Linked DNA regions of Homo sapiens. The protein of the gene in region 3 interacts with the protein of the main gene of each other region in a pairwise test. Each region holds a gene or a part of one and is shown on either strand. Other genes may lie near its edges.

The links.
Region 1: the proteins of NUTM1 (region 3) and PSME4 interact in binary tests that used the Homo sapiens proteins (3 or more experiments, as listed by UniProt).
Region 2: the proteins of NUTM1 (region 3) and P4HA3 interact in binary tests that used the Homo sapiens proteins (3 or more experiments, as listed by UniProt).

The regions. Positions count from the first base shown.
Region 1 is NC_000002.12:53,922,325-53,926,075, forward strand, and holds part of PSME4 (proteasome activator complex subunit 4), read right to left. Parts: intron 3,700-3,751; coding exon 3,635-3,699; intron 3,366-3,634; coding exon 3,215-3,365; intron 1,096-3,214; coding exon 997-1,095; intron 795-996; coding exon 725-794; intron 261-724; coding exon 193-260; intron 1-192. UniProt on the Homo sapiens protein: Associated component of the proteasome that specifically recognizes acetylated histones and promotes ATP- and ubiquitin-independent degradation of core histones during spermatogenesis and DNA damage response.
Region 2 is NC_000011.10:74,283,994-74,287,744, forward strand, and holds part of P4HA3 (prolyl 4-hydroxylase subunit alpha-3 isoform 1 precursor), read right to left. Parts: intron 2,399-3,751; coding exon 2,235-2,398; intron 1,993-2,234; coding exon 1,816-1,992; intron 1-1,815. UniProt on the Homo sapiens protein: Catalyzes the post-translational formation of 4-hydroxyproline in -Xaa-Pro-Gly- sequences in collagens and other proteins.
Region 3 is NC_000015.10:34,353,198-34,356,948, reverse strand, and holds part of NUTM1 (NUT family member 1), read right to left. Parts: intron 3,214-3,751; coding exon 3,077-3,213; intron 2,504-3,076; coding exon 2,217-2,503; intron 1,929-2,216; coding exon 1,812-1,928; intron 1,462-1,811; coding exon 1-1,461. UniProt on the Homo sapiens protein: Plays a role in the regulation of proliferation. Regulates TERT expression by modulating SP1 binding to TERT promoter binding sites.

The DNA.
Region 1 (3,751 bases), on a different chromosome or scaffold from region 3:
ACATGCAGTGATCAACTACACCACTCCTTTGACAATAAGAGTATGACATATTCTGATCTTCTGAAGCCTCATCAAATTTCCAAAACTCTGACTTTTCATATGTTTTAAAGTCATTTTGTCAGAAAGAGCTAAATCCTAAAAGCAAGTCAGTGTTTTCACAGTCATGTTTCTTATTCCAAAGATTTACAATACCTCAGACAAAAGTTGAAGATTCCATAGTAATTCCTTGTCTAGCTCTTCATCATTTAATACATCATCATCTAAAAACAGCAAAATACTATTAGGGGGAAAAACCTATGCATTCAACTAAATATAGCATTTTAAAATACTTCTATTTAATATTTCCAATAGCTGAGGAAAACCTCTTTTAGGAAGACTTTTTATTTCTTCTTCATGAAGCTGAGCTTGTTCCAAAAGGAGGTAGAAACAGAATTTTCAAGAAAATAAACACACCAACCAAGACTTCTGCCCCTCTATATCTCACAAAATAACTGATATTTTTGAAGGTAACCTCTGAATGGTGGTTGTATAAGAATATTAATAAAGTAACATTTTTAAGCTACTGCCAACCTGGATGATATCTTTTTTGGAGACAAATTTTCCCCAAATTGCCAATCAAAATATTGTGAAGCTAAAGGAATCTGTTGTCATTAACAGAGTTTTAGAAACCAAGAAAAAAACTTATCCAAAATTGTAAAGAGAGAATAATGACCTTATGACTTACTCATTGTAAGCTGAGTTATAACACTGCAGCAGTGGGGAACAAAGAGCTTCAAAGATTCTTCTGGGCAGCACTGAAAATGTATTTGTATAAGTAAGGCTTTTTTGAAAGGCAAATATATACAAGATTATATTTTCAGTGGCAGTAAAAGGCTGTAAATAAGCAGCTACTGAAAGAACTATGCATTTTAAGCATAGAAGCACCTCTAATAATTAACCATATAAACTAGTTGATTGTTGAGTCATTAATACATCAGTTCAAAAAAATAAACTCACCTTTACAGCAGCGCGGCACATGTCTGCCACCATGCGACCTGCTACTCTTGTTTCAAATATATGTGAAGTAGAAAAATTAAAAACCTTCTGAAGGGCCACCTGTTAAGATATGAAAATGTTTAATGAGCATTTTTTAAGAAAATTAAACATCTTACAGAACATAAAAGAAAATGATAAATATATTTAGACAATTCCAAAAATAAGCCCATAGGCAATTTTTAACCATCTGATTTTATAAGAATTTGTTTAATGATGTTACATTCAGGTCTAAGAACAATCTTTGCCCACGATCCTAACTTGAACAAAATATTTTAGGTACTGGCTGGATGTGGTGGCTCACACCTGTAATTTTAGCACTTTGGGAGGCTGAGGCAGGAGCATCACTTGACATCAGGAGCTCAAGACCAGCCTGGCCAACATGGCGAAACCCTGTCTCCACTAAAAATGCAAAAATTGACCAGGCATGGTGGCGCATGCCTGTAGTCCCAGCTGCTCGGGAGGCTGAGGCATGCGAATTGCTTGAACCCGGGAGGTGGAGGTTGCAGTGAGCCGAGATCGCGACACTGCACTCCAGCCCAGGTGACAGAGTTAACAAAAAAAAAAAAAAAAAAAAAAAAAAAAAAAATTGAGGTACAAGATTTCACTTGCCACAGAAACCCTACACATAAAATTATACCTGGTGGAAGCAAATGCAATTTAATTGTCTTTCTGGCTAATTGAATATAACAAAGGGAATTTTTTGGAATACCTAATACAATTTGTCATCCTGACAACTACAAACTAGACATCTATCCTTACCCTAAAAGAACTGAAGCAGTCTGTTTATTTTACAGTCATGTCACAAAACTTTAATTTACTTGCTCAATGGAAGAATGAGTTCTATACCTGGGTTAACAATACTGAAAAGTATAAACAACTCTTTTTGGTTAAATAAGAGATGATTTGTGTTCATTTCTTTATACTAACATAATCATAGTATTTATTTCACACAGCTATAAGGCAGTTTGGCTTCTAGGATTAACATATTTAACAGTGATAATTACAGATGATGGGAGAAGAAACAGAAATGAAAATAAAGTGTAGTCTTAAAGGCTACAGATAATAGGTACCACATTACAAATAATAGGTACCAACCAATATTGAATTAGTGAATGCTTACTGAATGTCTTATGAAGATAACTACTTCTAATCCATCAGTTAGTCTTAGGATTTAATTTCTATCATGGGAGTGATGTCATAAGCAATTTCTAAAACTCAGCTGAGTAACTGTTTTTAATTGTAAAATTAAAAAATACAGTTGTTTCTTTTTTTTATTTATTATACTTTAAGTTCTAGGGTACATGTGCACAACATGCAGGTTTGTTACATATGTATACATGTGCCATGTTCCTGTGCTGCACCCATTAACTCGTCACTTACATTAGGTATCTCTCCTAATGCTATCCCCCCTGCGACAGTTGTTTCTTGTTGTTCATGGTAGTCATGTTCTATAAATTTGCTGTGACCACTGAACTAGCAAATACTGAACCATTGCTCCCAGGGGAAATACAGGATTATGTTCCTGTGAACCTATGGTGACAACATTTTCATCAACTGATCAATACATAATCCTAAGTGTGATTCTGTTTACAGACAACTTATTTAATACATATTGTTGATTCACTAACATTTAATCCGCAGTCAACAGCAACATAACTCATGCCTGTTGACGCTTACCTAGCACAGTGTTTTTTCCATTAGGCACAGCACAACTCTCTTATGCTTAGGAACCCTCAACCACTTTAAACAATAAACTCTTGGGAGCCATTTTTGACATTTTTAAACAGCAGAATCACCAATAAGAAGCAAAAAAATGTAAAAAAGTGGCATTAAATAGATCGCAAAGGGGACAGTTGTTTAAGTGGAGCTGGATATAAGACGGCAGAGTGCCTCGTTTGCTCTCAGCTGAGAACACATGGCATATGTGAGATCAAATTTAAGTAACTGAATTTTTGTCAGTCGCAAAAGCTTGATTCTCAGGTTGCAAATAGTTAGAGCAAACAGGTAAATTTGCAAATACGAAATTTGCAAATAATGAGCAACTGTACATTTCTTTAAAACTTTAGTATGAATGTAAATGATAAACTGCATGATATACACAAAGTAACTTGAAGTCAATTTTAAAACATCAAATGAAACTTAAAAGCTGGAAGTTTATTTTTTGCAGCAATGTTCTTACCATAAATATTTCTTTGGAACATTGGGTGAGGATTGTACTAAACGTAGAAGACAGACCTAATTCGACCAAACTCTCCAAGTGTGTCATTTTCTCAGTTTCTGTCTCTTCTCTTGTTTGCTCCAATGTGCTACTTTCTATAAGTCCAAAACATCTAAATAATCCAAACAAAGCATAATTTCAGCAACTAAAATCTGGTTTGACATTTTTGGTGGTCATCAGGTAACTCTCTATTGTCCTAATTATTCAAGTGATAGCTACTTAATTTCTACGTGGTTCACAAATCGATTATCCTTTTATAACTTCAGGAGCACCAGTAGTAGCTAAATAAAGGTTATAATGCAGAAATAAACTAAACTTTCTGGGATAGAAGAGTCATTTTCTAGAATTTCAGCTAAACGTTGGTGTGGGTTACAAGCTCACCTGTCCATAAACTGTAAGACGAAATCCTCAAATTCAGCTGTGGCTGAACAAAGTTCTCGTTCCACCTATAATATCCCAATATGGAGAAAGATTACATATAGCCTTTGTTTTTTTTTC
Region 2 (3,751 bases), on a different chromosome or scaffold from region 3:
TCATCTCACTGTAAAAGCCCAGCACCCAGGCCAGTGTCTGGCACACAGTGGGCTCTATTCTGTTGACGAATGACTAATGGCTGCCTGGATGAACTGCACATGTTAAGGGCACAATGTCTGGCTTGACAGAAATAATTCTGAGACAATATCTTTAAAGAGGCAACATGCTTATAGAGGTGCATTTTTTCTTGTTAATATTTAGCACACTTCCTAGGGGGAGGATTAAATGTCCTCTTCCCATTGACATCCAGCTTGGCTTGGTGACTTGCAGTGCTTTCCCTGTGGAAGAATTAGAACCTTGCTGTTAACTGCAGTAGTGCCCACATGCTTTGCTCTGACCAGTGAAACATGGGTGGAAGTAACATCTGGCACTTCCATGCAGAAGCTTTATGAACCAGCTCATGTTTGCCATTTGTCTTTTTCCTCTTCCATGAGACTGGCAATGTCCCATACAGAGGCTGCTCTGTCAGGCTGGGTCTCCAAGTGAAGACAGTGGGATGGCTTCAATCAAAATTTAATCTAATCATGATTGTAATTTAATTTAATCATGATTGTAATTTAATTATAATCATAATTACATTATAACTAAATTTTTCCTTAAAACAGCCCTGTTGCCATGGTAATGGGAGAAGTGACCCACCCAGAGATGTCTATTTAGTCATTCATGGCCGTGTCGTCCATTTGGCATGCACAGACCTTGGCACACTTCCTTCCCCTAGAAGCATCTCTCTGGGGCTGCTGATGCCTGTCTGGTTTGTGGCTCTCCCAGGAATCAGCCCTGGGCTCACATGGTAGTGGCTCCCCCATGGAAACTGAAGACAGATGCCTCAGTGGCTTGTGTTGAATATCTGCTTCCTAGTCACTGTCCCTTTCCCAAAGCACACTCACTCAACACTTCTCGCCACATTCTGCCCATCTTTGGAGACTCAGTTGAAGCCCTGCACCTTCGTTGGGCCCGCTAGCCCTGATCATTCTGGCCTCCTTTGGTTCTTTTTATAACGAAATTATAATAATGATTGTAACTGAATTACAAAGTTTAATTTATAATTATATGTTATAATTTATAATTCATAAATGAGGCACAGAGATTAACAATAAAATATAATAATAATAATATACTGTAATAAAATTATGGGAAAATGACCTCTCTCTCTCAAAATATCTTATTGTACTACACTGAGAATAACTGAAACCACAGAAAGTAAAATTGCAAATAAGGGGGACTACTGTACCTCTAAGTTCTAGCTGTGGCTCTAGCTACATGTATGAGCTTAACAAGTCCCTTCCCCTCTCTGGGCCTCGGTTTCCTTTTTAACAAAATAATGAAGTTTAGCTTTCTACTCTAACTCTGTAAATTTGTGCTAGGATTTTACTCCTTGCCGCTGTCATTTCACCCTTTTCCCCACCTCTACCAATTACATAGAATGGTTGACACTTTTGAAGTGTTCTTTTTTATTTGTCTTTTTTTAGGTTAAACTTACATACAATGATATACACAGGTCTCAAGTGGACCATTTGGTGAGTTTTGACAAATGCATACAGCCACATGTACCACGTCCCTAACAAGATATTGAGAGCACATTTTCAATACCCCAGAGAATCCTCTTGTACATCATCCAGTTAATCCTTTCCCTCTAGAGGCAAGCACTATTGTGATTTTTTTCCACCATGGACTAGTTTTATGGAATGGTTGGCATTCTGAACTCCTTGGCTCTTTGAGGTGTCTAGTTGTTCAGGTTGCCTATTCTTACACTCCTGAACTCCAGGCATGTGAAGATGAAAGAGAAATTCTTGGCGGGTTCTCAGGACACTCACCCATGGTTCTGCAAGTTCTCTAATTTTCTGAGCCTCTGAGTCACTGACGAAGTCATGGTAGAGAGCAATGTAGGGCTCCAGGTGGATGACCTCCTTCCGGATGGGCTGGAGCAGCAGGTAGGCGTTGGAATTGGTCTCATAGGAACAGTAGAGGCTAGGGATCTGGTAGAGAGTGGGCTGGAAGGAAAGAATAGGATGAGCATAAGAGAAGAAGGGTCTAGGAGCAAAACTCAACTTAGGGGAACTATGGCATAAAAAAATTGGAATGCAAGAGATACAGAATGTGGTCACTCTGATGCTGCCCAAGTGAGCTTTATTGTTTTTAATGCATCAGCTCTATCCCCTCATGTTATCCCAATTCTAGCTTCTCAAACTCTAGCCAGGCCTCTCCCCCTTTCTCTTTCCCTGAGGAATCCTACCTGGGAACCCAGGGTCTGACATAGCCCCTCGTAGGTGTCTCTGGTCTGCAGGTGGGGTATATTGGGCCTCTGGATGACAGCCTCAGCTACCACGTGGTTGGGGCTCTCTGCCAAGAGCCTTTCATATTTCAAGACATTCCTGGCCATCCTCTTATTATCTGGGCCTGGAAGAAATCAGAGCAGGGAATATAAAATAGGGATTAACAAATACTGGCCCCAGGGAGTGCCACCAAGGTTTCCTCCAGCTTCACTGCTGCACAGGATGGGCAAGTGGATCTCCTGAATAACTCCTCATGTCAACACACAGGAGGATGCAAGGCCCTCACTCCCAGAAGACTACCTGGTATTTTTTTAAAAGACTGACTTGATCCTGGTAGATCTGAAGGTGCAAAGGGTTTTGGGAAGCAAAGTGGAACTTAAAACTCTTAGGCCAAGGGATCATGAAGATGGCTGCTCTGGGATACTGTGATGGTATATATGGCGAAGATGAAGCCTCATTCATTCATTCATTCTTTCACCCATCCATTCAGTAAATCTTCAGTGAACATCTACTATGTACCAGATACTGTGCTACAGGTTGACCTCTCAGAGTTTAGAGTCTAATGGAGAAAAAGGACATTAAATTATCACTTACAACAAAATATGATAAGTGCAATGAAAGAGAAGTCCAGAAAGCCAAAGCCTATTGCAAAAGGACCCAACCTATTCTTCCCCAGAGAATTGGAAGCTAATTCATTCTTGGCTCCACTAGATCTTTCAAATCTCCTAACTGGCCTAGACCCAGAGCAAAGAAGTATGGCGCAGAGGGACTCTAGACTTTGGCTCTAGACTGGATTCCCACAGGGCCCTTGGGAAACCCAATAAATCTTGTGTCTTGTTTGTGCCCACCTGTTTGTACCCACTTTGGCTGCAAGATGCCCCATGCATTGGCAGAGCTACCCGTGGCCTGCTGGCCTCTTTGCATGACTCTCAATGCATCTCAGAAGGAGATGCTGAATTGTTCTAATGCTCCCAAAGCATCTTTCTCTGAGGAGCCCAGTGTGCTTCTAACCACAACCATCACCCTGGCAAAGGAGGAAAGGAAGGGGCAGAAATTACCATTCTGTTTTAACAAGAGAAGAAGTGAAGTTTTGGAGAATGGAAATTATAAGCCCAAACCCCAGTGAAAATATTGCAAAGCCGGAAATAAAACTGGGAATCTCAACTTGCCATGTTCTATTATCCACCTATAAAAGCACAAAATTTGAGTGGATAGCAAAGATTTTAATAGATCAAGTGCAAATAAATAAAGAAGGGTTGGATTATAATTTTGTTTGTACCACTAATTACTCATGTGTTTGTAGATACACAGCTACTTCCTTATCCTATTGTTTGCTAATTATCAGAAGGGAATAATGTTACTAAATGGATTCATTAAAAAGTTTTGTATACATGCAATTATAAAGTCCTACATGAAATACTTTATAAATATTAAAACAAAATAGTGATTTTGTATCTCATTGTAGTATCTAAATACT
Region 3 (3,751 bases):
ACTCTCTTGTAAAGGAGCAAGGTTTTTAGGCTTGGACAGATCAGGATCCACCCTGCCTTCTCCTTGGGGGTCATAAGAATGAACATTCAGTGGGCAGGTGTCCTCGCTGACCCTTAGTTGGAGGCCACAGTCATCTTTAACATCTAGTATGTTGACAGGTTCTATGGTTTCCAACAGAGGAGAAAAGGAATTGCCTCTGCTCCCTGCCTCTTGACTGGCTTCAGGCAAGGAGGAGGCATCCTCAGTCCCCATGATAAGGAGATTGCCTTGGCATGTGGGTGGAAGGGTTTCTTTGGAAGACCCCAGTGTGGAATCACCACTTTCTAGCAATGGGAAGCAACCTTCTGCCCACAGATCACTGGGATGCCCTACGGTTTCACAGCTCTGTTCTTGATTTTCTTTGGACCTCAAGGGTGGGCTGTTGGCCCTCAAAGGTCCTGGCAAGCTGCAATAGTTTCTCTTTTCTAGGGCAGCTGCCGCAACTGTGCCTCCACAGGGAATCACACTGCTCTCCGTATCCCCAGGTACTAGGGTTTCTCCAGGACCCAGGGAAATGTTGCCCCTGGAGCCCAGTCCCTGGCAGCCTTCCTGATACTCAGTTACACACTTCTCAACTTGGAAGCTCTCTATGACCTCCTCTATTTGTACAGGCAGCTCCAAGCCTACAGCATCCATCTCACTGCTCAGCCAAACTCCTGGGCTGAGACAGACATCGTCCCTCTCCCCAGCTGCTCTAGGGGAAGGATTCTGATCATAACTCTGAGCCATGGGGGTACCTCTGTCATCTCCCCACATGGCTCCTGAAGAGCCTTCCCAGGGCACTGCTAAAGGCTCCTTCCCTTGAGGAAGCACTCCACGACCCCCTGTTTGTTGTCCTTTCTGCAATCCCAGGACTTGCTTTTCTAACCCTTGTCCTTGCAGAGGAGCCAGCTCTGCAAGTCCAGCATCCAAACTGGGAGTGCTCTCAGGCTGGAAGCCTCCCTGCCAACAAAGGGGCAGAGCCTCTGAAGTCCTATCAGCCACCAGGCAGTGCCCAGGAGGCCCAGCGCCTCCTAGATGGCCATCCTGATGTAGAGATACCTGGTTTATAACCTTCCCAGACCCTCTCCTCTCCACACCCAAGGGTCCCGGAGTTCCCTGTGGAGCTGCAAGTTCTGGCTGCAGGTCCCAGCTGCTGGGGGATGGCAGAGTGTTCCCATCCCTGTGCATCCCTCTGGGGCTATCTAGGGCTTGCTCCTGCCCACCATGCACTTCTCTTGCCCGTTTTCCTGAAGAAGAAACCTTTCCAAGGCAAGCGGCGCCCCCAGCCCCCTGAAGCCCAGGTGAGGGCCGAAGCCGCCCATCCCCATCTTCATCCTCAACAGAACCAGAAGGACTTGAGTCCAACTGAGCGCCACTGAAACTTGGAGGCGCCTCTGCATCTTCCTCCTCTTCCAAGGCCATGAGTCGCTTCTGGACCAGCTGAAAGAAATGAACAAATAGTCAGTTCTATACGTGGTTGTGAAAGAGGTGGCTGAGTGGGTGGCACAAGACGGTATTTGGGCAGGGCAAGGAAGGCAAGCAAGTAGTTTAAGCGATGGTAGCAAAGACAGATACTGCAGCTCTTTCCCACCTTCTTGTGCCTTATTCCCATGCTTTGAGCCCTTACATTCTCATTTCCTGTGTTTCCATAGCCCTCTACCTACTCGTTCTGCACCTGAAGCCCAATCCTGAAGCTGTTCATCTCTAGAGCCATATCACCCACGACAGTGTAGGGTTAGATAAAATCTTGCAAGCTTCTCGTTCTCATATTTCCTATACCCCAGTTTTACCTGGGCAAGAGTGAGTCCTTCTTCTTGCTCTAGCTCCTCAATTAAGGCCAAGGGATCTCTCTGTTTTTCTGGGGACAGCAGATCTGCCAGAAATTGAGGGTGAATGACAGCCTCCACCTGGATAACAGAAGGAAAAGCGATGTAAGTCTGTAAGCAGGTAACCTGTGAAACAAGGGGCTTTACAGAAGAAACTAAGAGCTCCCCAACTCTCCCCTCTTACCCCTCCGGTATTGTAAACTGACCACCACCGGCTACACACATTCTCATGATGATGCATGCACACACATTACTCAGTTATAGAATAAAACCTAAGTCCTACTGCATTGGACAAACCCCAGATCATTAGTTCCCGGGAGTACCCACCCCAAGGATCTGCTAGAAACAAGATGTGCAGGCCCAGCTCACCTTGGAGACAAAGACCTTCTGAGAACACAGCTCATTGATGTAGCTCAGGAGACCTGGATCTGGATACATCCCTTCCTCCTCCTGCTGCTGCCCTTCTTCCTCTTGTTTTCCATCTGACTCCCCAGTGGCCAAGTGAGTCCCCACCAGCCATTCCATGATGTCAACATACTCCTTCACAGCTTCTGGTGGGATCTCCTTGGGTGCCTCAGGAGCAGGAGGTCTCTGGGCTTTACGCTGACGCCGGCGGGGGGCCCGTGTCTTGGAGGCTGCCTTCTTCGGAATGTACACTAAGGGAAGAGATGGACAGGAGAATGGGAAGTAGCACAGAAACCACAGATTCTGCCTCCTTCGGAATGTACACTAAGGTAAGAGATGGACAGGAGAATGGGAAGTAGCACAGAAACCACAGCTTCTGCCTCCCAGCTCTGTAAGCTCAGCAATCTGGGTACATTGAAATGGTTCCAGGCTGGATTGGGCCAACCTGAAAAAGCGCCAGCCATGGGAGATTTAGGACCTAGAGGGTCTAAGAATCACTGTATGAGGAATTTTGGAATCCCTGAGATTCCAAGAAACCCCCTAATCCAGTCCCCATTTCTTAGGCAGATGAGGTATTATGTGCTGAATTTAGAGTCTCGGTGAGAGTAGTCAGTTTACTTCACCAAGATCAATACCTAGTTCAGGGCAAAAGGAACCTGAGAACCCAGCCTCCTATGGGGTGGTCTGTTTGGAATATCAAATGCCACTCTCCAGAGGGAAAGTGGCAGAGCCTGGGCTATGCCTTCTCTAATCTGTGACTGGCTTCTGTATGCATCCCTTTGAGCCTTTGGCCCACGGCTCCTGTCAAAATTGGGTAGCCTCACCTGGCTGCTGGCAAACCTCAGAGGCCAGGGGCCCTAGAGGATCAAGTTTCAAAGGGGTTGCAGGAGACAGGCCCTGAGACCCATTCATCAGCTGTGTGTTCTGAATCTGCATCTCCTCAGCCTCAAACTCCATGAACCTGCAGAGGGTGAGAAAGGCATAGGCAATGCTGAGAAGGAGACCAGACCCATCAGAAATCCAGACGACAGCCAAGCATGGCCAAGAAAGGAAGTGCTCTCAGGTGGGCAAAGTCTGCCTAAGTCATGTCACCCAGGAGGGTGGTCACAGGTGGCTTAATCGTATTTCCAGGGAAACTTCAGGAGCTCAGCACATAGTTCCTTCCCCTATAGTCATAACTTAGGAAGCTTAAGAAAATGAATGGCCAGGTGGGGTGGCTCATGCCTATAAACCCAACACTTTGGGAGGCTGAGGTGGGCAGATTGCTTGAGCCCAAGAGTTTGAGACCAACCTGGGTAACACGGCAAAAACCCATCTCTACAAAAGATACCAAAAAAATTAGCCAAGAGTGATGACGCGCGTCTAGTCACAGCTATTGTGGGGCTGAGGTGGGAGGATCGCTTGAGCTCAAGAGGTGAAGGCTGCAGTGAGCCATGACAGTGCCACTGCACTCCAGCCTGGGCAACAGAGTGAGATCCTGCCTCAAGAAAATTTTTAAA